Homo sapiens: one gene and its partners. The protein of the gene in region 4 interacts with the protein of the main gene of each other region in a pairwise test. Each region holds a gene or a part of one and is shown on either strand. Other genes may lie near its edges.

Region 1 (7,037 bases), on a different chromosome or scaffold from region 4:
CTTCTTTCTGTGATATGAATTCAGAATTAAAAACTCAGGGAAGGGACTAGAGGTAATTGTTCTGTTTTCTGGCAGGTCCCACATTTAGGCAGATAGGAGAACATCAGTGCACCTTCATCCTGTGCTTTGGGAGAGACAGAGGAGGAGGAGGGGGAGGTCAGAGAGACCTTGAGCCATCTTCAGTTCACCATGTCAAAATGCCATACTTCCGGGTATCAGTTTCTGAGCCCCAGTGATAGCAAAAGGATCCAGTTGAGGATCATGCTTTCTACTTAGTTGTGAGGTCTCTTTAGTCTCCTTCAGTATGGACATTTCTTAGTCTTTCCTTGGCCTTCTGAACTTGAAACTTTTGAAGAGAACAGGGCAGTTGTATTGTAGAACCCCTCAATTTGAGTTTGTCTGATGTTTCCTCATGCTTAGATTCAGATTATGCATCTTTGGCAGGACTGTCGTCGAAGTTACATTGTGTTCTCAGTGCACCTTGTAATATGTTACATTATTTTGATTTATTCCATTATTTACTTTGATTATCTCATTATGTTGATGTCTGCCAGACTTCTCCAGTATAAAGTTACTCTTTTCTTCTTTGAAATTAATAAACATTTTGTGGGGAACTATTTTGAAGCTAACTAAAAATTCCTTTCTTCATCAAAATTTCTAATTTATCTGGACTCAGTTTTTTACTTTAATCAACAGATTTAATCATTACTACCATTATGTATTTTAATCTTTAATTTATCCCCAGATTTGGCCACCGAAAACCATCTCAAGGTGGATTCTGTGTCGTTTCAACATGTCATCATCATTCTTTAAGCATTTCCTTGCTTTTTGGCATCATAAGATGTCCCAGGCTCATCTTGCAGTTTTTCTATCCTGGTTTTGGGATCAACCATTTCTCTAAAGAGTCCTGGTTCCTTTTGGTGGAGAATAGTATTAGAAACCAAAGTCTGGGTGCTGAGTGTGCTCATTGCTCATTGTGGTTGTATCTGCTCTCCCAGGCCTTCTCAGCAGACAGAGCTAGGGTATATATGTATTTGTATATACACAAGATACACACATAGGCATTGCTTTTTTTTTTTTTTTTTCTGAGATGGAGTCTCACTCTGTCGCTCAGGCTGGAGTGCTGTGACGCAGTCTTGACTCACTGCAACCTCTGCCTCCCGGCTTCAAGCGATTCTCCTGCCTCAGCCTCCCGAGTAGCTAGGATTACAGGTGCATGCCACCATGCCTGGGTAATCACACATAGGTATTTCTATCTGTCTGTCTATTTATCTATCTATCTATCTATCTATCTATCTATCTATCTATCTATCTATCTCAATCATCAATCAGAAACCACAGCTGCAGGATTACATTGAAATCTAGTTCCAATCAACAGTATTTATTCTTGTTTTCTCCATTTCCATATTTATAATTATCTTCTCTGACGGTGAAAAACTTGGCTCCTATTATCCTCCATATATTTACTTACTTGATCAATTCTGTGTATGTACTTTTGGCCACTGGAGCCCTTTCAGTTGGGTCCCCATGTCCCTTTCACATACTCCCATCATATTGTATGTGTTTGTGCATGTGTTTTAGTGCTTTTTACTTTTCTGGCACTACAAGATATTCCAGGCTTATTTTGTATATTTTATACCCCAGACCTAGAATCAGCCATTGCTCCAATGAGCCCTGGTTTCTTTTATTGAAGAATATTATTAGAAACCAAGATCTGGGTGTTATGCGACTCTCCTCTTTTTTTGACACTCCTGTGTTCATTAAACTAAGACATAGCTAAGTTTTTGCTAGTCTTCTATTTTATTTTTAAGGAGGAATAGATGTCTTTTATTTCTTTTTCAAGAATATTGAGAATTTAGCCACTTGAAATCTTGGAAAATTATATGGCAGACTGTTTATTAATGTGTATCTAAAAACATAGAATCATGATATCCTTTGTCCCATTTTTGATCTGAGAGTTTTTCATCTCAGTAAATTCATATGTAGGCAAGAGTTCTTAAATTTTGTGTACCATGGATTCCTTTGCCAGCTTGGCAAATCCTATGGGCCTTTCTCCAAAAAAAAAACATTTAGTCAATGCCTGTGGGGACAGGCATGGTGGCTTATCCCAGCACTTTGGGAGTCCAAGGGGGGCGGATTGTTTGAGCCCAGGAGTTCGAGACAGTCTAGGCAACTTGGCGAAAACACATCTCTACAAAAAATACAAAAATTAGCTGGGCATGGTGGCACATACCTGTAGTCCCAACTACTTGGGGGGCTGAGGTGGGAGGATCACTTGAGTCAGGGATGTTGAGGCTGCAGTGAGCCGTGTTCATGCCCCACTGCACTCCAGCCTGGGCAACAAAGTGAGACCCTATCTAAAAAAAAAATTAAATGCATAAAATAAAATACATAGAATTACAAAGTAAATCAATTGTATTGAAATATGACTGGGATTATAGGCACCTGGCACCACGCCCAGCTAATTTTTTTTGTATTTTTAGTAGAGACGGGGTTTCACCATGTTGGCCAGGCTGGTCTCAAACTCTTAACCTTGTGATCCACCCGCCTTGGCCTCCCAAAGTGCTGGGATTACAGACATGAGCCACCGCGCCCGGCCAGAAATCAATTGTATTGAAATATGGTTATCAGAATATTTAAAAAGCAAATGTTTGATATAGTGATATATATCAATGTATTACAATATATTACAAGACCTAGTGGTGAGGTTAGTAACTAATGTAGAAGCAATGTTAAACACAAACTATTTTAGCATATCTGCAACAATATTCTATGAAACTATCTGTGCTTTCTATTGGTGACTATCACAGGTGCTGTGAATACTACTGTAGTTTGTTACCATATTCATAATTGAAGAGAATGCTAAGCTTCAATTAGAGGTTATTAGAAATAAACATATAATTTCTTCCCAATCCATGTTTATGGACCCAGCAGGAGAGTTAGTGAAAGCTTCAGGTAAGAACACCTGCGTAGAGAAAGCATATGTTGGAGGCCTCTTGACTTTGTTTACATTTGGGGAGAACAATAGGGAGAATTAAATATTTTAATCAAAAACTTTGAAAAACGTTGGAAAACCAAAATAGTATTCATTTAAAATGGAGCATGATATTATGGTTGGAATGTGAACTACAAAGGAACATTAATGTTCATTACTTTCTATATATTATTTTGTTGAAAAGCAAAGGATTTTTAGAATCTTTTTATATATTATAGGTGTGAAAGTTATTTGAAATATTGGCCAGGTGCTGTGGCTCACGCCTGTAATCCCAGCACTTTGGGAGGCCGAGGGGGGTGCATCACTTGACAAGAGTTCAAGACCAGCCTGACCGACATGGTGAAACCCCATCTCTACTAAAAATACAAAAATTAGCCGGGCATGGTGGCAGGTACCTGTAATCCCAACTACTTGGGAGGCTTGAGACAGGGGAATCACTTGAACCTGGGAGGCAGAGGTTGCAGTGAGCCAAGATCGCACCATTGCCCTCCAGCCTGGGCGACAGAGAGAGACTCTGTCTCAAAAAAAGAAAAAAAAAAGGAGTTATTAAAATACAGACTTTGTTTGGATATAAGCCATATGATAATAAAGCCTTTGATGATGGGAAAAAAAGATATAGCAAAGAAGAGATGTTTCTTCCATAAAAGGGTAAAAGTTCTTATTTCTTTGTTCTTAAATTTGTGTATATATGCTATGCTTATAATATTTATTTTTTATAATATTAGGGGATCATGGAAGCTGATAAAGATGACACACAACAAATTCTTAAGGAGCATTCGCCAGATGAATTTATAAAAGATGAACAAAATAAGGTAAAAAGGAAATTACTGGGTATTATTAAAAATTATTTTATATCTATTAGTTTTGCAGTAAGGCATGTTTTGTATGTCTTTGTCCAACATTACCTTGAATTTGGGAGGCCGTTAGGCTTTAAAAAAATTTTTAACTTCCATTATGTTATTTAAGCCTTACAAGAAGTGTCATATTTTTATTCTTTCTCTTATAAGGCTTACAACACTAGCTGCTTTCTCACTCACACCCTCATTTCTTGGATTTGCATCAACAAGTTAAGAGCATAGTCAGCAATTATCTCATTAGACCCCAAGAGGGAACGGAGGCCCAGGTAGCTTAAACCACTTCCCCAAGGTCATATGTCTGGCTCATTAAGGTAACTGTGTACTATGCGATACTATGGGAATCACAGATAATTAAGAACAAAAACAACAACAACACCAACAACAAACTGCCCCAGAATATGTCCGCTATTACAGTGCAATTTAAAAGTCTTATCATGCTCACAAATAGCTAGGAAAGGAGTTGATGCAGCACTGAAGTAATATTCAGAAGATCTGATCTCAATCTTTGCCTTACTATACAACTTTCTGTGACTTCGGTCTAGTGTAAAAGGTGGTTTCCTGATTTATATAATGGAGATAGTACTACTTGGCAATGTTAGAATAGACAGGTGATGATGTAAAATATTCAACAAATGCATTATTCACATAGTCATATTTATTCTGAGACTGTCTAATGTCTTTCTTTGGTCAGGATGAGAGAAATTTATAGTCTTTAGTTCATTCGGAAAAATGAGTTCAGGGGCTATTTACTTTCTTTGGTACCATTTGATATTTTTAAGGGACTAATTGATGAAATTACAAAGAAAAATATTCAACTAAAGAAGGAGATCCAAAAGCTTGAAACGGAGTTACAAGAGGCTACCAAAGAATTCCAGGTACTCTCTTAATTATTTTATATACTACATTTTTGATGGATGCATGGTTTTTGGAAAAAGCATTTTAATTACACAAAATTCATTTTTAAAACCTTATCATCATCCATGGCACCACCATTTGTAATAGTTCAAAATGGAAAACAACCCAATGATTCCTTCATAGTAGAACGAATTAGTGAATTGGGGTATAGTCATATGATAGAAAACTACACAGCAATGAGAATGAACAGATCATAATGACATGCAGCAACACAAATGAGTTTCATAAACACAATGTTAACACAAAAAAGACAGAAGAGGGCATACCATATGCTTCCCTTTAAATTAAGCAAAAGCAGGATGTTTGAAGTTAAAACAGTGGTTATTTTGGAAGCAGGTAAGACCCAGAAGGGAACCCAAGGGGGTTTCTGGGGTGTTGTCATGTCCTGCCTATCATCTGCGTGCCAATCACGTGTGTTAGCTTTGTAAAATTTCATCTTGCTGTACTTAATGATACATGCATTTTTCTATTATTTACGTACACTTTAATAAATTTACAAAAACAAAAAATTAATAAAATTTACCAAAAAAAGATGGTCATTAGCAAATTACTGTTGGATCAAATTCTGGCTTTTCTCACTGAGTTCTTTTATAATTCTTCTCATCCAAGGTGCTTTGGTAATTTAGATGAGTTTCACGGTTCAAAAAATTGGACATATATTAATCCTCACCATTTAAATTCTCTCCTAAATTTTCCTGTATTTTAATTGTACATAATTTTCACCCATTTTTTTTCTTAACAACTCAGATGTTAAAAAATTAAAGCATTGAGGCTGGGCGCGGTGGCTCATGCCTGTAATCCCAGCACTTTGGGAGGCTGAGGCGGGTGGATCATGGGGTCAGGAATTCACGACCAGCCTGGCTAAGATGGTGAAACCCTGTCTCTACTAAAAAAGAAAAATTAGCCAGGCATGGTGGCGGGTGCCTGTATCCCAGCTACTTGGGAGGCTGAGGCAGAGAATTGCTTGAACCTGGGAGGCGGAGGTCGCGATGAGCTGAGATCACACCACTGTGCTCCAGCCTGGGCGACAGAGCGAGGCGCCGCCTAAAAAAAAAAAAATTAAAGCATTGACACTTCTTGTTTCTGAAGTGGGAGATAGGATATTGAATATCAGGAAGTGAGGTTTTCTGTGTTTATGAGATGGGTGACTTTGTGCAGAAGACTCTGTTAAGATTCTGGTTACTTCTCAGACTGGAGCTAGAATCATGCAGTCTTATAACTCAAAGAGCCTTTAGAAACCGGCCAGCCCTAGTCGACCCACTTTGCAGAGGACCAAACCTGTGATCAGAGAGCTTAAGTAAATTTGCTGTCTGTCGCAGTGTGGTCAGAAATAGAATCAAGCTTTCTCACTCTAATTTCAGAAAGCCCTTGCTCCTCAGCATATACTGGGTATTTCTGCATTATTGGGTAACACTCTGCCTTTACTCAGACATTGTAGACTGTTTTGATGTCAGCCTTACCGTAATCAGAAGTTCCACTGGAGTTATGCATAAAGGCAAAGAATAAATGTAAGATTAAATTGAATGACTCACTGAATATTTCTAATCTCTGTGTTATTTTCAGCATGTAAAATAACCATGGGCAATAGAAATGCAAGCATCTATCTCATTTGTGCATTTATGTGTAGTTATATGAATCTGTTAATCCCAATAATTCTAAGCAGCTAAGTATAACCACCTACCTTTATCTTTCAGGTTACAATTTTTTTTTTTGAAACAGAGTTTTGTTCTTGTTGCCCAGGCTGGAATGCAATGGTGCGATCTCGGTTCACTACAACATCCGCCTCCCTGGTTCAAGCGATTCTCCTGCCTCAGCCTCCTGAATAGCCAGGATTACAGGCGTTTGCCACCACGCCCAGCTAATTTTTGTATTTTTAGTAGAGATGGGTTTTACCATGTTGGCCAGGCTGGTCTCAAACTCCTGACCTCAGGTGATCTGCCTGCTTTGGCCTCCCAAAGTGCTGGGATTACGAGTGTGAGCCACCTGTGTAGCCTCAGCTTACAATTTCTGTTGATACTGTCCCTTCTCATTTTTTATAAACCTAAGTTGTGGTAATGGTTAAAAAGTTGATGGGCAGGTGTTGGGGAAGGTGGAATTTTTAAATTTGATAAATTTAACATCATCTAATTCTGGGCCAGGTGTGGTGGCTCACGCCTGTAATCCCAGCGCTTTGGGAGACCAAGGCAGGCAGATCATGAGGTCAAGAGACCATCCTGGCCAACGTGGTGAAACCCTGTCTTTGCTAAAAATACAAAATACAGAAATTAGCT
Region 2 (3,295 bases), on a different chromosome or scaffold from region 4:
AGCAGGACTGGCGAGCGTGACCCTCCCCGTGGCTGCGTGTGCTCTGAGCTGCTCAGTACCACAGCGGCTGTCGCCTGTCCTCCCTCGGACAGTGTGGATAAAGCCCACTCAACCTGGGGCGGGGAGGAGGTCACCTTCTAGCTCCAGCACTCGCAAAAGATGCACCTGACCTGGGGTGGGCTCTCACAAAGCCTCAGACTCGAAGCCAAACTCGGCTCCCAGCAGCTCCGGGTTCAGGGAGGTGACCCTAGCAGGTCTCTGGGAACACCCTCTCCTAACCCCCCAACCCAGGGCAGGAGGGATCGCCGGACAGAAGCACGTGCGGAAAAACCCGCACCTTGACCCAGGTCAGCCTGGTATGAGGGTGACTTAGTGACAAACAGATGGGACGGTGCTGTTGCAGGGCACAAGGCTGGCCCCAGACACCAGGCACCACATGGGGCCGGGCCATGGGCAAGGTGCACTCTCAGAGAAACACAATGTTTTCGGAAAAGACAGACAGAGCAGCTCAGGGCTAGAGAATAAGTTTATACACTGCCTCGTTAGGTCCAGGGGCCCGCGCACGTGGCCAGGCGGGTGGTCCTGACGCTTCAATTCATTTACAAGTATTGGATTCCACGCCTGCTCCTGTGCCCGCAGGCTTCCCCAATAGGCCAGCAATCTCAATAATGCTTTATTAAAGGGCAGATTCATATGCGGCTCTTGGGGGAATTTTTACAAATATCAAAGGAACTAATCCAGCATCCTATATAGAACTCTGCACACTTTGGGGAGGTCCGTGAAGCAGGACAAAGTGCTCTTTACACAGGAATTGAGTCGGTTCAAGTATCTGCTCTGTGGGGAGGACACCCTAAGCATTCTACATACGTCACCCCTGCTCTCAGGATGCACCCAGTGGGCTCGCGGTCAGGGTGGCCTTGCCGGTGTCCACCCCCACACCACCCCCAGCTCCGGAAGCGGCTCCACACGGGGCTTGGACCTCTGCAGGGCAAGAGAGGGAGGGTCTTGAGCTGGCTGGGCCCTCTGGGCTCCCTGGGGGAAGACCCCACCCTGCTGCCTCATGGGGCCTGCAACAACCCCAGGGCGGGACCCTCCACCTGACAGTGGGGACAGGCAGAGGCTGGGGCGTTGTGCCTCTTCTAGAGGTGACCTGCTCACCTGCTCTCAGGTTGACCCTGCCTGCCCCCCACCACCCGGGCACACTCCTCCCACGCAGCCTGCTGCAGGGCCTCTGTACTTCCTCTTTGGCGAGTGCTCCAGAAATCCACCTGGCCCTCCCTTGCTGCCTCAGTGCAGCCTTCCCTGACCCCCATCTAACGTCACAACCACCTGAGACTCCCAGCATAGGCCCTTGTGGCTCTGCGGCCAGAACGATGCCTGGCATGGTCAGCACCCACGGCCCAGCCCGCCCGAGGATGTGGCAGGGCAGGAGCCACTTCCAGCTGCAAGCCCTCCTGGCTGCTCACAGTGGAGCTAGTCTTAGGCAGCCCCATCCCTTCTCTGTTGAGGTTTACCTCCAGCGCCCACCTCACCAGTGCGTTCTGCTATCTACAGCCCTTCTCACCCGCAGCATCCGGGACATCCACGATCATACAGTCGCCCTCCTCCTCTTCCTCCTCCTCCGTGTCTGCCTGGAAGCCGTCCATGTCTTCAGCACCAATCTGGACAGACAGGGTACACGGCCATCAGCACTGCAGGCAGCAGCCACCCTGGTGCCAGTGCGGTAGCGGGGGGAACTCCACAGGTGTGACACCTTCCTCCCACCCCCAACACGGAAGGAAACCAACATCCAGAACCCAATTTGGTAACAAACTGTCCAAATGTGAGAGGTTTATTCAAGAGGCCACAACCAGAGAACCTTGGGGGTTCCCTCAAATGAACTGGATTCAGATCTCCAAAAACAGCCATCATTGCCAACTGCAGAATAATTTCCAGTCAGTGACAGGCCGCATACCTGATAGTGGCCCCATCAGATTACAACTGTATTTATTTATTTTTATTTTTTTTTGAGACGGAGTCTCGCTCTGTTGCCCAGGCTGGAGTGCAGTGGCGCGATCTCGACTCACTGCAAGCTCCGCCTCCCGGATTCACGCCATTCTCCTGCCTCAGCCTCCTGAGTAGCTGGGACTACAGGCGCCTGACACCACGCCCAGTTTGTATTTTTAGTAGAGACGGGGTTTCATCGTGTTATCCGGATGGTCTTGATCTCCTGACCTCGTGATCCGCCCGCCTCAGCCTCCCAAAGTGCTGGGATTACAGGTGTGAGCCACCATGCCTGGCCTTTATTTTTTATTTTTGAGACGGGAGTTTCACTCTGTCACTGAGGCTGGAGTGCAGTGGCACAATCTCAGCTCACTGCAACCTCCGCCACCCGGGTTCAAGCGATTCTCGTTCTTCAGCCTCCTGAGTAGCTGGGATTACAGGTGTATGCCATCACGCCCAGCTAATTTTTGTATTTTTAGTAGAGACGGGGTTTCACCATGTTGGTCAAGCTGGTCTCAAACTCCTGACCTTATGATCTACCCACCTCAGCCTCCCAAAGTCCTGGGATTACAGACAACTGTATTTTTATTTAATATATATAAATCTTGAGACAGAGTCTTGCCATATATCCAGGCTGGAGTGCAGTGGTGCGATCTTGGCTCACTGCAACTTCTGACTCCCAGGTTCAAGTGATTCTCCTGCCTCGGCCTCCTGAGTAGCTGGGATTACAGCCACCTGCCACCACACCCGGCTAATTTTTGTATTTTTAGTAGAGATGGGGTTTCACCATGTTGCCAGGCTGGTCTCGAACTCTTGACCTGAAGTGATCCGCCTGCCTTGGCCTCCCAAAGTGCTGGGATTACAGGCGTGAGCCACTGCCCCAGCCGCAACGATATTTTTGCTGTGCCTTTTTTTTTTTTTTTAACAGGTGCCCGCCACTACGCCCAGCTAATCTTTTGTATTTTTAGTACAGACGGGGGTTTCGCCATGTTGGCCAGGCTGGTCTCGAACTCCTGACCTCAGGATTCGCCCACGTCAGCCTCCCAAAGTGCTGGGATTACAGGCATGAGCCACCGCACCTGGCCTCTGCTGTGCCTTTTCTATGTTAAAGACACATATACCACTGGGTTACAAGTGCCTGCAGGATGGAGCAGTCAGTCACCTGCTGCACAGGTCCACAGCTCAGGAGCCCTGGGCTATGTACCACACGGCCCAGGCGTGTGGCAGGCTGTCCATCTAGGATGTGTAAGAGCAACCTAGCCCCACCCAACCATGAAATTGCCTGAGGACACCTCTCAGAACACGTCCCTGA
Region 3 (7,037 bases), on a different chromosome or scaffold from region 4:
CAACTTCCCTCTATCTGCTCCTGAGTCCACAATTTAGATTACTTCATCTCTGCTAGCAACAAACTGAATGAAATTTCGATTTGAGCAGAAAGTAATTTACCGGGATCTGGACCCATTTGTCATCATATCTCTCTGGGTGTTTGCTGTATCACTGCAGTTTTCCTATGCAATCAAATGAGACCACAACATCTGCCATGGGGGGAGGAGGGGGAGAAGGAAAAGGCTGCAGAGGAGGGGAAAGCTCAAGGAATTGTGGTGTACTGAAGAAAAACATATACATAATTCCTTACATCCTTCTGCAAGCACAACAAAATATTTTAATAACCACCGAACTTGGGCTTTTATGCAATCTGTAGACTCAACCTGGGAAGCTTTATTTGCTTTTGGGCTTCCCTCTTTAATATCCACAAATATTTATTAAACAGACCAAAATGATTTCACATTGAAAGGTGGTGTCGGAACAAGTAAGCAGAATCAGAGAGGTAGTTTTCAAAAACGAAAAACAAAGTAAGAGGACTTACAAATTAACATATTGGTGTCATAATAAATATTAACATTTGCATTTCCTCCTTGTCCAAATAAAGTCATAAAATGCAGTCTGTGTCAAACCAGGAGACATATTCCTATAGAACACCCCATAATCTGAATGATTGCAGCATGCCTCTATATAAAAATAATTGCTTTGAGTTTTCAGAATCTGGTCTTGCAGAAGAGGCTTGTCATGTTCAAACTACTAATTTGCTGTCGCCACTTTATTGAAAATAGCCTGTAAGTTGTTATTAAATGTATTGACTGAACGACAGGGAGAGTAGTAAAACTGCCCCTTAAGATGGCTTTTAATAGGAAGCCCGAGAAACAAATTTTGCAGCAGCATCGATTTGAAGAGTTCAATCAAAACTCCATTTCAAAACTAATTAGTCTGAGATCCACGACACATTGACACGTTCTTGCAGAATCAGAACAGTTACAGAAAGAAAGCTGAAATAATACACTGTCAGGACCTCTAGCTGCAGGACCACACCATGTGGGAGCTTGGGGGGCCTCTGGGCTGCTGTCTCCTAATGCTGGACACTTCAGGAACACTGATGAGGACCTCCCGGTGTCTCACCTGCAGTACCACTGCCGCAGGGGAGTTCTCAGAAGGGGAAGGTAGCCAGAGAATGGGCATGGCCCTGAGGAAAGCATTTATGGACGGCAGTAGTGCTATTCCAACCCCCAAAAGGGATACCAAATTCAAACAATTTGGGTAAAAATAAAGTTAAAAACCAGTCCATGTGGCCAAATACATGCTGAGGATAAGAGAAGACAGGTAATGGGGGTAGAAGGGGGTGACAGAATCCTAACAAGGCTAAAGAACAAATATCCTCTTACAGCAACCCTGAAGTATTTTAATGGATAAGAATCTATAATTATGGTTGCCACTACCAACAGGTACACAGTGACACTCCATCTCAAAAATACCCTTTTCACAGTACCCATCTGATTACTCAGCCTAAGTGTTCATTTATTTAACAATTCACCCTGAGTAAAGTCAGTTGTAAGTCTTCAACATCGAAGTGTATTTTAATAATCAGGGCAGTTCATATGTAATCCAAAAGCCTTTCATAGATCTTATTTTTTTCCAGGGCTGCTATCATAACCTTTCAGAGAACAATCAGCCACAAAATGGTGGGATTCCTGAAGTGCCAAAAATTACAGTTACAAAGTTTGAAATGACCAAGATCTACCCAGGACTGATGTGCTATTGAACAACGTATCAATGGAGTTTAAGATCTTTCCATGCCTACAGCTTTAAGGCTGCCTCAGAGCAGAATAACTTACGTGTCTATACACATTCTAATCCCCTTTTACCAGAGAGGAAGGCTACCATTAGAATTCCACCCTTTTTCTGAAAAGTTGTGTGTGCGTGTGTGTGTGTGTTTTTTCACAACGTTTCTGTGCGCTGGAGAGTTAATTATCTAACCAGGGGGACTGTCCGGACAGTGTTTGATTTAAAAGGCTCGAGGCTTTAGGTGCTCAATTAAGTAGCTATCGGTCTCAGACTGGACTATAATGGGCTCTTTTCTCTTTAACTCAAGCAACGGGGAGATATACCCCAGGTCAGGCTAATTAAAGCCAGGGGAGTCTTTAATTGTGATGACAGAATCGGTTTCAGTTTCCTTTCTTTGGGTCCTCAGTCCAAGAAGGTCGTTAATATTTCAGCATTTGGGCAATGCAATCAATCACAAACATCAAGAGGTTCCTTATACAGGGAAAACGGAAAAGATGGGAAGAAATCCCACCAAACCACTGCACTTTAAAGGTGCTTTGCTCCTGTTTGAACAACACCATGTAGTTTTATTCCTGTTTGCCCGCTGAGCTCCAGCTCTCCTTGCTGGCATTAAGAGATGGAGGGCAAATCGTATTTTTAGTTTACTATCAATGCTTAGCATCTTTCAGTAACTTCAATGACCAATAGGTGGGCTTATTTTCAACTGCATTATTACTTCAAGCAAAATACATGCAATATGAAACGCTACCTGGCTGTGTTTTCTAAACTGCTTTTGGGCAAGGAGAGGTACGTTTCTGAGAGTGTGGCTGAAAGGTATATACATTTGTACCTGCAAGTAAATATCAGCAACCTATCTGAGGAGAAAAAAGCACATCCACAGCTACTGATCCAGAAGCAATTGGTTTTCCAGCAGGTTCCTATATTTAATCTAAATTCTGCACCAGCTATATTAAATGTAACAAAGAAATGCAACCCAGAAATTATGCCTGGAGCCAAGTCCATTAAAGGTACTTCGGAAAAACTAGAGACCAGGCACCTTAAAAGCACCAGAAGCTATTGATACTTAAGAGGGGGGCTGTGCATAATAGGAAAAAAAAAATCAGCCAAATTACGCTTGGTTAATTCAGAGTAACAGATCTGCCCCCAAGTGAATTGGAGGCCTTGAATTAATTCTGTTATGACAAATCAAGATAAACGTTCCCCCTAAATTGCATGCGATTTAATTAATTTTTGAGATCCTGTTTTTTTTTTTTTTCTAGCTAATAGTTCACATGCTCCTGTGCTGTCATTGTGCTTGAGTGGGCAGACTTCAAAGTGATATTAAATAACCAACTATTAGATTTACCTAGCACGTCCTATTGGAAAAGTGCCATTTAATTACCTAGCCTGTTCAATTAAAGGGACAGCATTCTCTGAATATAGCAGCTTGCTGTTGATTACCAGGGAAATGAACTCGCTGTCTGGCGGCGCCTCCATTCCTAACGCCACCCCCTACCCAAACACACCCTCCACCACCAACTACCAATTCTCCCCACCCTCGCCCCAGGCCCCCACCCCCGGCCGCGCCGGGCTCACTGCGGCTGCGGGCGCCACGTGAACCGCCCGAGTGGAGCCCGGGGAAAGAAAGCGCGACCCGCTCGCCCGGCTCCCGCCCTGCGCTCGCCCCCTCGTGGGCCCGAGACCGCCCGCCGGCTGGGCGCTCTGGCTGCGGCCTCGGGCGGCGCCGGCCCGGGTGCTGGCCGCCTAGGGAGCGAGGGCCAGCCGACGACCGCCACCCTGGCTTCCGGCGCGTTTCCTCGCCCTCCCCGGACCTGGAGCCCCACCCGCCGGTCTCCGAACTTCCTCCTCTCGCTGCACTTTCCGCGCCAGTCTTCGGGCCCGAGGTGGGGGTGGAGGAAAGACGGTTCGAGGAAGAGAAACGGAGTTTCCGAAGCTACTTGGGGCGCTTGGGTGGAGCTGAGGGGTCGGGAGCCGGGGGTGGGGGAAGGGGCAGTCCCAAGGTTCCCCTATTTTTGTAAGATGGGGGGGCCAGGCAGGCGTTGGTCCCTTTAAGATCCACCCTCCCCCTCCGCTCTACAACCCCCCCCCCTTCATTCTTTCCCTCCCTCTCTTAGAGGCCAATTTTGTTAATTAAATGTTTTGTTTGCGACGCAGCTCTCATTCATTGCGGACACGTCATTCGGAGCAGATCTAAGCCAGAGACCAGATCTCATTAGATAAAGCCCATCAGAACTAAGAAAATGGAGGAGCCACTAATTAAAGCTTTTAATTGTGCGGATTCGCTGCAGCAAGGCAGCCGCTTTATCTGAAATCTTGGAGGGAGAGGAGGCAGAAGCCCAGCTCTGCCCATCGACACTTGGCCGCGGAGGGGGAGGGGACTGGTGAAAGCGCCCCCTCATCTTGCAGCCCCCTCCCCCGCGCTCAGGCCGGCCTTTCCCAGCTCTCCCGCAGCTTTTTAGCAAGACCTTGGTTGTTTTCAAAAAACCACAACTCAAAGTCAAGACAGTTTAAAAGCCCCTCAGTAAATCGCTATGTGGTCTCAGTCGGACCAAGGGGTCCCCTTCACCTGGCGGCGGGCGAGCAGATTACTCCACTCTTCTGCAGCGGTCCCTGCGGCATTGAAAGCTCCTCCAACAAGTGGACTTGAGGGACATTGGAGAGGGGGTAGCTGAGAGGAACAGCAACGTCTGCACCTTCCCACCCTTTGGACATCCTGATGGGCTGAGAGAGGAACACTGAAGGAAGACTTCAGTAATCTCTTAAATTGGAGGGGAAGGGGCGCTCAGCTGCTGGTGAGCCCTGAGCTAAGTGTGAGGCCATCAATTTCGTACTGAGCTAGAACTCATCTCTCCTAGAAAGATCTAAGGTCCTCGGGGTAGCATGTAGTTCAAGAGCGAGCCTGGCTCCAGTTTCCAGATTCAGAGGGAAAAAAGGAAGTAAGAACGTAGATGCCATTAATTAAGGCTCAGGGCTGGGCACACATCCTCCATTGCTCCATTAGGGCACAGGAAAACACCAAAAGGCCATTTACATTTGGCCCCAAGAATAGAGAAAAGAATGGACACAATTCCCAGGAAGCCACTTGCCTAAACTTGTCCTGGGGGAATACAAGCGGACCCATCTTCTTTTTAATTAGTTGTAATCAGAAGCGAGGGTTTTTTTTGTTTTTTGTTTTTTTTTTTTTGAAGGCACTCGGAGAAGAGATGAATCTGTACCATTCACGGAATCTTAACAGCACTGTCAATTTTTCCACTTCAAACCACACTCCTTTCTTACCACAGTTTTGCTTTCTATTTAATTACAGCACCGTCAAAGCTCATGGCATTACTTGGAAGGAGGACCAGAAAGCATTACACCCATGTTCCTGCTGATTTTCCAACATTTACTTCTAAAAGAACACTTAGTGAAATTAATGCTGCCATCTTAATTTAAAAATAAAAGCCCTCTCCCTTCCTGTATTTCTTTTACTTGGACTGATTGAGGATGCCAGCAGAATCGACACAGGTTGCATTATCAAAATAACTAAATGTCATTTTACTCCATCATCTTACACTAATGATATCACTGGGGTAAACATATCCACACTCAGCTCGGAACTGCACTGGGATCTTTTACAATGTTAGTCGCAGGATAAGGCGAATCACAATGGAGCTAAACTTTGAACAAAATAGTTCATCCACTGATTTACCCACACTGAAGAAAGAAAAAAATTTTCTACTAATCACTTTAAAGAAAAAGGTTTAGGACAAATTTACATAGGATGAAATTCTTAAAAGTGTGCGGTTTTCTAGTATCAACTGTGTGCGTGTGGGTTTTTTTTTTAATTACTGGATGTTGAAACAGAACACCTCCTAGAAGCATTCATGTGCATCAGTCTATCAAACCATTTACTCAAATTAAATGTGTAATCCTTCAAATGCCTCCTTTCAAATTAATGAGTTTAAGTAGCTTGAGTTCACCTGAAAAGATCCTATAGGCACCTGACCTCCTGAATTCTTTCCATTAATTGCACTGCAACTTGTTGGAAAAGACTGCTTACATGGACATATGAATGTTCCTATACATTGCTTTAAAATGCAAGATTAGTATAATTCTATAGCCTTTTTCTAAATCTCTTTTGGGGATCAAGGGCAGTGATACAAACGACAACAAAAAACCCAAAACCTGAACATGCTTCAATTGAAAAAAACTGCAAATTCTACATCGCAAACCACACACTAACTGAATTATTGCAAGCCTCCGAGTAACAGTATGAAGAGAAACATTACCACCAGGTTTTATTTCTTGGGACTTTTTTTTTCTCTATAAGAAGAATTACAAGTCTTTAAACTGATGGATAATTAGCATTTTTCTCAAGGAGCACAAAGAACGAATCACAGCCTTCCGCTCAAAAAAGTTTCAAGATGCTTATGTAAATATCGTTAATAAGCCATCGCCATAGACAAATCATTTCTCACTAACTACACTTGTATTTTTAAGTCAACCTTTGTTTCTGGGTTCCTCTGTGAGTTCCTACCTTGTTTTAAGAACGCAGCTTAACTCCCGCTTGGGATGTTTGCTTTTAGCCTGAAGTCCAGTAGAGGCTGACCACTTACTTAAACTCTAGGACCAGAGGGTGCTCAACCTTTGCACATCTAATGACCCAGTCCCACCAGATGGTCTTTACTTAGTATGGCATTTGCCATGAATTTGCCATCAGATATTGGAAGACTAACACATGCTTCCTGAACCCCTTAAATTCCGCCAACTAGAAGATTTTTGAGGTGAAGGCTGCATACTCCCCGTAGACGCCTACTCCTTTCCTCACAACCCTGTTAACCTTTGGCCTTGCCATTGCTCTTCCCCCCATCTCCAGGAAAGACAGCAAAGTCTTACCTAATGTAGTCATTTCTGCAAAGGATCATGCCACTTTTGGTGTAACAGGACGTGCCGATGTCGCCCAGCTGCGCCTGGCAGCAGGAGCACTTGAGGCACCGGCTGTGCCAATAGCTGTCCATGGCATAGAGCAGAAAGCGGTCCGCAATCTTGCCCCCGCAGCCTGCGCACCGCTTCCAGGAGAGGGAGCCGGCCGTCACCGGGGGCGGCTGCGAGCTGCTGCCCGGATTCACCATGGTCTGCAGAGGGCGGGAAGGGGACAGGGAGAGAAAGACAAAACAGGGGCGATGCAAAAGTTAGTAATCGCCGGAGAGAGAGCAAGCCCATTCCCCTCCTCCCCGCGGAGCTGCTGGAAGGAAACAGCAGGGCAAGGGCGGGAAGGAGGCTGAGG
Region 4 (7,037 bases):
TGCACTCATGGGTGATGGAGTGAGACCCTGTCTCAAAAAAAAAAAAATGAAATAGAAGATGTGGTCTCTGATCTTAACTGATTTATAACCTTGATGAGATTGCAACCACAAGACAATGTGAACAAGTGCAAAGTAATTCAACCTCAGCTGAATAATTTTTTAGTAAAGGCATGCTCATATTCAGGTGAGAATACTTAGGAAAGACTTTTCCCTAGCCCCTGAATCAGGTGTGGAAGGAGTGGTCTGATCAGGTCACTTACAGGGCTGGGTCCACAGAGACCTTGTTTATGCCTCCCCCATCACTTCACCCTGGGGTCTCCAGGATGCCTGCAAGAGGTTTGGCCTCTTCCATGGTGGAAGCAAATGATTCCATCACGAGAATATCTTGAGTGAGGACACAGATGATGTGTGTTCACATGGCCCTGCTCCCCATGGCCTCCCTAATGCTTAATGCCGTCCTTGCATTGGGTCAGTGAGTGGAAGAGGAATCACTCCACCTCCTCATTAGTAGGAAAACCCAGGTGACACTGGACCAGGTTACGTTCTAGTTTCTCCAAAGGTAATTCAATGGACCTCGTTTGGAATACTCTGGTGGAGGTCAGATCTGAAATGGAAGCTTCTCCCATGCTTTGTGATCTGAGCCATGATCTGTCCGCTCACCTGTTTCTCACTTTTCCCACTCCACCCTGTGTCTCATGATGACGTTTGCTTTTCCTCCCGACTCAAAATTTACCTTTTGGGGTCTTACCCTGGTTGTAGGAGCTGGCTTTTCCTGGGGATTAAGGCCTCAGTCTTCCTCCCATTCGCACTGCCTTGCACTGCCCCCCATATGTTCCCAGGGTAGCTCTCCAGCTGGAAGCCTTGCTGATGCCATGTCCCAGAAACACCTCCAGATCAACCAGACGTTTGAGGAGCTGCGACTGGTCACGCAGGACACAGAGAATGAGTTAAAAAAGCTGCAGCAGACTCAGGAGTACTTCATCATCCAGTACCAGGAGAGCCTGAGGATCCAAGGTGAGGCGCGGTGGAGGCACATTGTGCAACTTGAGGATTGGGCCTGGGGACTGGAAAGCAGCTCTGGTGGGGTTGGGAGAAAGCACACTTTCCATTCGGAGGCAGCGACCTTTCTCTGAGTAGCAGGGACTTATTTGCATTGAAGACAGTGCTGAGAGGATGAGATTTAGGAAGGGGAGATGACAGGACCCCCCGCTTAAGTGCATATCTCACTCAGGTCCCCACATCCAGGGAGCTTCTGAGCTGCCAGGGAAGACATTTCTTCTTTTGAGAAGGAGCTCACAGTCTAAATAAATACTAGCAAACAATACTTTTGTATATAGTAGGCATATTATAAGTGGAGCTTTATTGAAATGATAAATAGGAAATTATATAATTACATGTTTAAAAATTTTTCTGGCTGGGCACGGTGGCTCACACCTGTAATCCCAGCACTTTGGGAGGCTGAGGCAGGCGGATCACCTGAGGTCAGGAGTTCGAGACCAGCCTGGCCAACATGGTGAAACCCCGTCTCTACTAAAAATACAAAATTAGCTGGGCATCCCAGTGGCGCATGCATGTAATCCCAGCTACTTGGGAGGCTGAGGCAAGAGAATCTCTTGAACCCGGGAGGCGGAGGTTGCAGGGAGCCGAGATCTCACCATTGCACTCCAGCCTGGACAAAAAGAGCAAAATTCTGTCTCAAAAAAAAAAAAAAAAAATTCTAAGCTGGGAGTGGTTTTGCACACCTGTAATCCTGGTGCTTTGGGAGGCCAGGGCAGGAGGATCACTTGAGGCCAGTAGTTTCAGACTAGCTTAGGCAACATAGTAAGACCCTATCTCTAAGGGGGAAAAGAAACCTTTCTAAGCAGGTACGTGTAAGTACTAAGGACCTGTATATGATTTCTAATGTTCTATGCAGTTATTCACAGAGGTCTTCCTGAAACAGAGTACACTTAACGCCCCTTAGGTAGCCCTTATGGACAGAGCTTCCCTAGCCTGGTATAAATCCTGCTTAGTAGTTGGGGCACAGAGAGCTTCAGTCTGTGGTGAGGCTGTGGAGCCCCACCAGCGCCCCCTTTTGACCCTGTAGCAGTTTGGCAGTTTGAGCTTTAATAGTTTCCTCTCTGCTTCCATGCCCAGCTCAGTCTCAGAGAAGCCTTGGCTCAACCACCCAGCCCCTCCAAACACACACACACACAGCACACACAGACAACACAGCACACACACACACCACACACATCACACACACAGCACACACACACACAGCACACACACCCCCCACAGCACACAGAGACACACAGTGCACACACACAGCACACACACACCACACACAGCACACACACAGACACACAGCACACACACACCACACCACACACACCACACCACACACAGCACACACACACCACACCACACACAGCACACACACACCACACATAGCACACACACACACCACACATACACACCACACACACATAGACACACAGCACACACACACACACACAGCACATGCTCCTCTAATTCCATGTATGTAGGTTCCATTTTATGTCTATAGTGATACTACTTATTTACTCTTTATCTTCTCCACTGGAATATAAATCTTTGAGAAGGGACTATATCTTTTATCTCTGTACCCTGAGGCCAGCACAATGCCTGAAACATAACAGTTATTGAGTAAAGGTTGACAGGATGATTCTAGCCTGTCTTCCTTTTTTATCTGAATCCATCCTAGACTGGCCCTAGAAGAAGGGCAGCTCCTTCAGAGAATGGAAACGGAAGATTTGGGATGGCTATTCCTACCCAAGTCCTTAGACTGTCAACAGTATTTCTGATCCCGTGCCTGGCTTTTCTGTTTCCTGTGCATGGTGGCGGATTAGGTTTGGATTCAGGTTGGGTTTGGATCTATCACGCAGTGTCTTCTCAGTCCCATTTGTCAAGTTCACTCAGCAGAAACACAGACTATTGATCTGCTTTTGCCAGGGAAGGCTCAGCTGCCTCCAGTGGAGTAGGGAAATTGCTTCCCGTCTCCCTGGCCTCCTTCCCAAAAGCTTCTGCAAATTTCCAGGAGAGCCCTAAGTGGGTCCCTTGCATAGGAAGGCTGGGCCCAGGTGTTGGGATCACCACCACCCTCCCTGTGGCTGGGCAGGATTCCTGAGGTAGCCGTGCAGATACCTTGGATCTGTCCGTCCCTGGATGATCCTCTTCCTGCTCGATACCTGCAGTGAGATTGGAGCCATATTTCTGAGTTCTAGCTCTGGGCTGTTCCTGGCTACATAGAGTTGCTTTTGTCTGTCCCAGCTTGTGCATCCCATGGGTCAGGGCTGGGGTCAGAGTGACGTGGCCCTCAGGGGCCAGCCAGGAGCTCGACCAAGACATGCTGGTGCGCGCATCTTCTGACTCAGCTCAAGCAAGGACTCTGGGCTGTTGAGAAGGTGATGGGAAGGGATTAATAGTCCCAGTGTGGTGGAGACGGGCTGTCGCTGGGAGGGTGGGGTGGGCCTGCGGTGGTGGTTGTAACTGTGGACATGTTTACTTTCTTAGCCTGGGTTATTGATACACAGGTGCTCCTGTGTTCCACGTTCCCTGTGTCTTACCTATTTCATAATAATTTTTAAAAGGTAATGAGGCCTAACTTACTCCCTGTCCCGCCATCAATGAGACTCCTCACAGATGGTGTGGAGGGAAGCCGCCTCCCTTCGGCCTCCCTTTCCTGAGAGAATCTTGGTGGCTCTGCATCCCCAGTGGCCCTGGACATGCTCTCCCTCTGCGGTCTGTCTGTCTGTCCGTGTTCCCTGGTTGGTTGGCTGGGTTCACAGTGAGCTCACCTGGACAAACATGCTGGGCCCCTTCCAGCCTCTCAAGAATCTCATCCTCCCCTGAGGAGGGATTGCTGTGCTCAGGGACTAGACAGAGCCGCCGGGGCTGGGTTTCCCTGAAGAGGCCTTGCTGCGGGAGGGATGGGGCCGAGCAGCTGCTTGTCTCTGTCACCTCTTCTCTCTGTCCTGTTCCCCGTTAACCAAGAAGCACGAACCTCACACAGAGCTCACCCATGTCAGGCAGCTTTCTGGCATCTTCCATGTCCTCATGTATTTAATCTTAATGCACCCCACTGAGGCAGGTGCCGAGAATCTCCCGTTTTACACGTGGGGAAGCCAAGGCACAGGAAAGGAAAGCGATTTGCCCAGGTTCACCTGCAGTCAAGGGCATGGGCACACTTACACCCCAGACAGCCTGGACCCATGCTGGGCCGCGAGAAGAGGGCTGGCAGCCCTGTGAGGCAGGCGGGCAGGAGGCAGGCAGGCCTCCTCCCCAGCTGCCCCAGCACCCGTGTGCCCCCAGAGGGGACGGCTCAGAGTCAGGAGGCTGGCGAGCAGGGCCCAGAGGCGCCTCCTGGGGCACCCATTCATCTTGGCCCCCCTGGCTGTCAGGAACCCCGACTTGCCCTTAATGCAGTATCTGAGCCCAGGAGGGTCTCGCTCCAGAACGGGTGAGTGGGCTTCTCTGGGCCTCCTGTTGGACACTGGGAGGTGATGGTCATGGTTTCCTCTCCCCTCCTCTAGCTCAGTTTGGCCCGCTGGCCCAGCTGAGCCCCCAGGAGCGTCTGAGCCGGGAGACGGCCCTCCAGCAGAAGCAGGTGTCTCTGGAGGCCTGGTTGCAGCGTGAGGCACAGACACTGCAGCAGTACCGCGTGGTGAGTGGGGTCCTGGGCCTCTCCTGGGCGTGGGTGCCATGAAGTCAGTCTCTGGGGACCCGAGGGAGGGCTGGGACCAGCATGAGAGCAGAACCTGGGAGGGCAGGAGGCCTTTTTTCCTGGGGGCCTTGCGAGGCAGAGCAGCTTGGGGAGAGGGAACGGCCTGGGCCCTGCCCTGCCATTTCCCAGCGAGGCCCTGCGGTGTTCTCTGGGAGCCCAGAAGGGGCTGCTCTCCTCCCTTCCCTCAGGAGCTGGCCGAGAAGCACCAGAAGACCCTGCAGCTGCTGCGGAAGCAGCAGACCATCATCCTGGATGACGAGCTGATCCAGTGGAAGCGGCGGCAGCAGCTGGCCGGGAACGGCGGGCCCCCCGAGGGCAGCCTGGACGTGCTACAGTCCTGGTAATGGTGTGGGGCGGCCAGCGGGCAGGGCAGGAGGGGCTGGTGGGGATCCCGGCTGCTTCTGCGTCCTGTGCTGGCTCCTGCAGCAGGCCCCCTCCATCCTGGGACAGCTCTTGTTTCTCCAGGGAGCCTGGTTCCTCAATCAGACTTTGGCCCCCATCCTGTGCACCTCCCCCAGGAAGGGGGCTGCTGTCCTGGAGATGGGACAGGGTTCGGGTGTGTGGGGTGATGCTTGGGCTGTTTGGGCCTAGTCAGGGTCGCCCCTCCTGTGTACGTCTCTAATTCTGGGAGGCAGGGAGCTCTGCTCTTCCCATGGGTGGGAAGTGTGGCGAAAGCACAGAGCCTTCCTGGGGGAACGGGAGCTGTGTCTTGGGGCCTGGCGTCTGTGCGGAGGAGCCATTGTCCTCCTGTTGGCCTTGGGGCTCTCGTGCAGGTGTGAGAAGTTGGCCGAGATCATCTGGCAGAACCGGCAGCAGATCCGCAGGGCTGAGCACCTCTGCCAGCAGCTGCCCATCCCCGGCCCAGTGGAGGAGATGCTGGCCGAGGTCAACGCCACCATCACGGACATTATCTCAGCCCTGGTGACCAGGTGACTGCTGCCTGTTTGCCATGCCCAGGAGCTTGGGGCAGCTCCTGCCTGCGTGGGGGGAGCCGCAGGTGCCTTCCAGACCAGCAGATCCACTTCCTGCCTCTCATCCCTCCCAACTCCATCTCCAGTTGCTGTGGCCCTTGCCCAGTTTCTCCTGTGGACACTGCAAGAGATGCCCTTGGGCTGCAGCCCATGCCAGCTTCTGTGTTATCTCACTCCCCTCTCCATCCTCTCCCTGGACTCTCACGGCTTCCCCAGGAACAGAGGCTGTGCCCGAGCTCTTCACCTCCTGAGCCCCTCGGGAGGCAGCCCCACCCCCACCACAGAGGGACTGAGAGCCCTTTCCCCTGCACCAGCCCCTCATCATGCATCTGTCCCTGTGTCCCCTGCAGCACGTTCATCATTGAGAAGCAGCCTCCTCAGGTCCTGAAGACCCAGACCAAGTTTGCAGCCACTGTGCGCCTGCTGGTGGGCGGGAAGCTGAACGTGCACATGAACCCCCCCCAGGTGAAGGCCACCATCATCAGTGAGCAGCAGGCCAAGTCTCTGCTCAAGAACGAGAACACCCGCAAGTAATTGTGCAGCTTCCTCTCATTCCCTGCTACTTGTCTCATGTCCTGGCAACAGGAAAAAAAGAATTCTGCCTCCTGTGTCAGATCCCTGTTTGCCCTTCTGGCCTCTTCTGGGCATCAGCAAAGGAATATAAGGAAGTTCTTGGGCCTGGTGTGGTGGCTCACACCTGTAATCCAAGCACTTTAAGAGGCCGAGGTGGGCAGATCACCTGAGGTCAGGAGTTCAAGACCAGCCTGGCCAACATGGTGAAACCCTGTCTCTACTAAAAATACAAAAAATTAGCCGGGCGTGGTGGCAGGCACCTGTAATCCCAGCCACTAGAGAGCCTGAGGCAGGAGAATCCCTTGAACCTGGGAGGCAGAGATTGCAGTGAGCTGAGATTGCAGTGAGCTGAGATCACGCCACTGCACTCCAGCCTGGGCAACAAGAGCAAAACTCCGTCACAAAAAAAAAAAAAAAAGTTCTCTTAGGAACTGTTTTCTGTGAAGATAGTTTGATCTTGTTTCATTTTGTAGAGATACGTCCGAGAAGATTACATGTATGTGTTATGTAGCTAACATTTCCTCTAAATGACGTACATTTTTAGCAAACTTCTCTATTTCCTGCTACCCCAAATTATATTATTTACTCCGCATGTCCTGAGACCCTGGCATGGGTTTGGAGCTGGTCTCTCTCTGATTTGCAGTGATTACAGTGGCGAGATCTTGAACAACTGCTGCGTCATGGAGTACCACCAAGCCACAGGCACCCTTAGTGCCCACTTCAGGAATATGGTGAGGGTGGAAGAAGAG

What was found.
Region 1: the proteins of STAT5B (region 4) and NMI interact in binary tests that used the Homo sapiens proteins (3 or more experiments, as listed by UniProt).
Region 2: the proteins of STAT5B (region 4) and CHAF1A interact in binary tests that used the Homo sapiens proteins (3 or more experiments, as listed by UniProt).
Region 3: the proteins of STAT5B (region 4) and LMO4 interact in binary tests that used the Homo sapiens proteins (3 or more experiments, as listed by UniProt).

Annotation. Positions count from the first base shown.
Region 1 is NC_000002.12:151,279,638-151,286,674, reverse strand, and holds part of NMI (N-myc-interactor), read left to right. Parts: intron 1-2,384; exon of another isoform or gene 2,385-3,376; coding exon of another isoform or gene 3,377-3,643; intron 3,644-3,720; coding exon of another isoform or gene 3,721-3,726; coding exon 3,727-3,807; intron 3,808-4,631; coding exon 4,632-4,727; intron 4,728-7,037. UniProt on the Homo sapiens protein: Acts as a signaling pathway regulator involved in innate immune system response.
Region 2 is NC_000019.10:4,440,611-4,443,905, reverse strand, and holds the end of CHAF1A (chromatin assembly factor 1 subunit A), read right to left. Parts: intron 1,662-3,295; coding exon 1,565-1,661; intron 982-1,564; coding exon 881-981; 3' UTR 509-880; downstream 1-508. UniProt on the Homo sapiens protein: Acts as a component of the histone chaperone complex chromatin assembly factor 1 (CAF-1), which assembles histone octamers onto DNA during replication and repair.
Region 3 is NC_000001.11:87,331,861-87,338,897, reverse strand, and holds part of LMO4 (LIM domain transcription factor LMO4), read right to left. Parts: intron 6,886-7,037; 5' UTR 6,883-6,885; coding exon 6,647-6,882; intron 1-6,646. UniProt on the Homo sapiens protein: Transcription cofactor. Plays a role in establishing motor neuron identity, in concert with MNX1, acting, at least in part, to disrupt LDB1-LHX3 complexes thereby negatively modulating interneuron genes in motor neurons.
Region 4 is NC_000017.11:42,217,359-42,224,395, reverse strand, and holds part of STAT5B (signal transducer and activator of transcription 5B), read left to right. Parts: intron 1-839; coding exon 840-1,014; intron 1,015-4,553; coding exon 4,554-4,684; intron 4,685-4,932; coding exon 4,933-5,084; intron 5,085-5,517; coding exon 5,518-5,673; intron 5,674-6,065; coding exon 6,066-6,245; intron 6,246-6,931; coding exon 6,932-7,019; intron 7,020-7,037. UniProt on the Homo sapiens protein: Carries out a dual function: signal transduction and activation of transcription. Mediates cellular responses to the cytokine KITLG/SCF and other growth factors. Binds to the GAS element and activates PRL-induced transcription.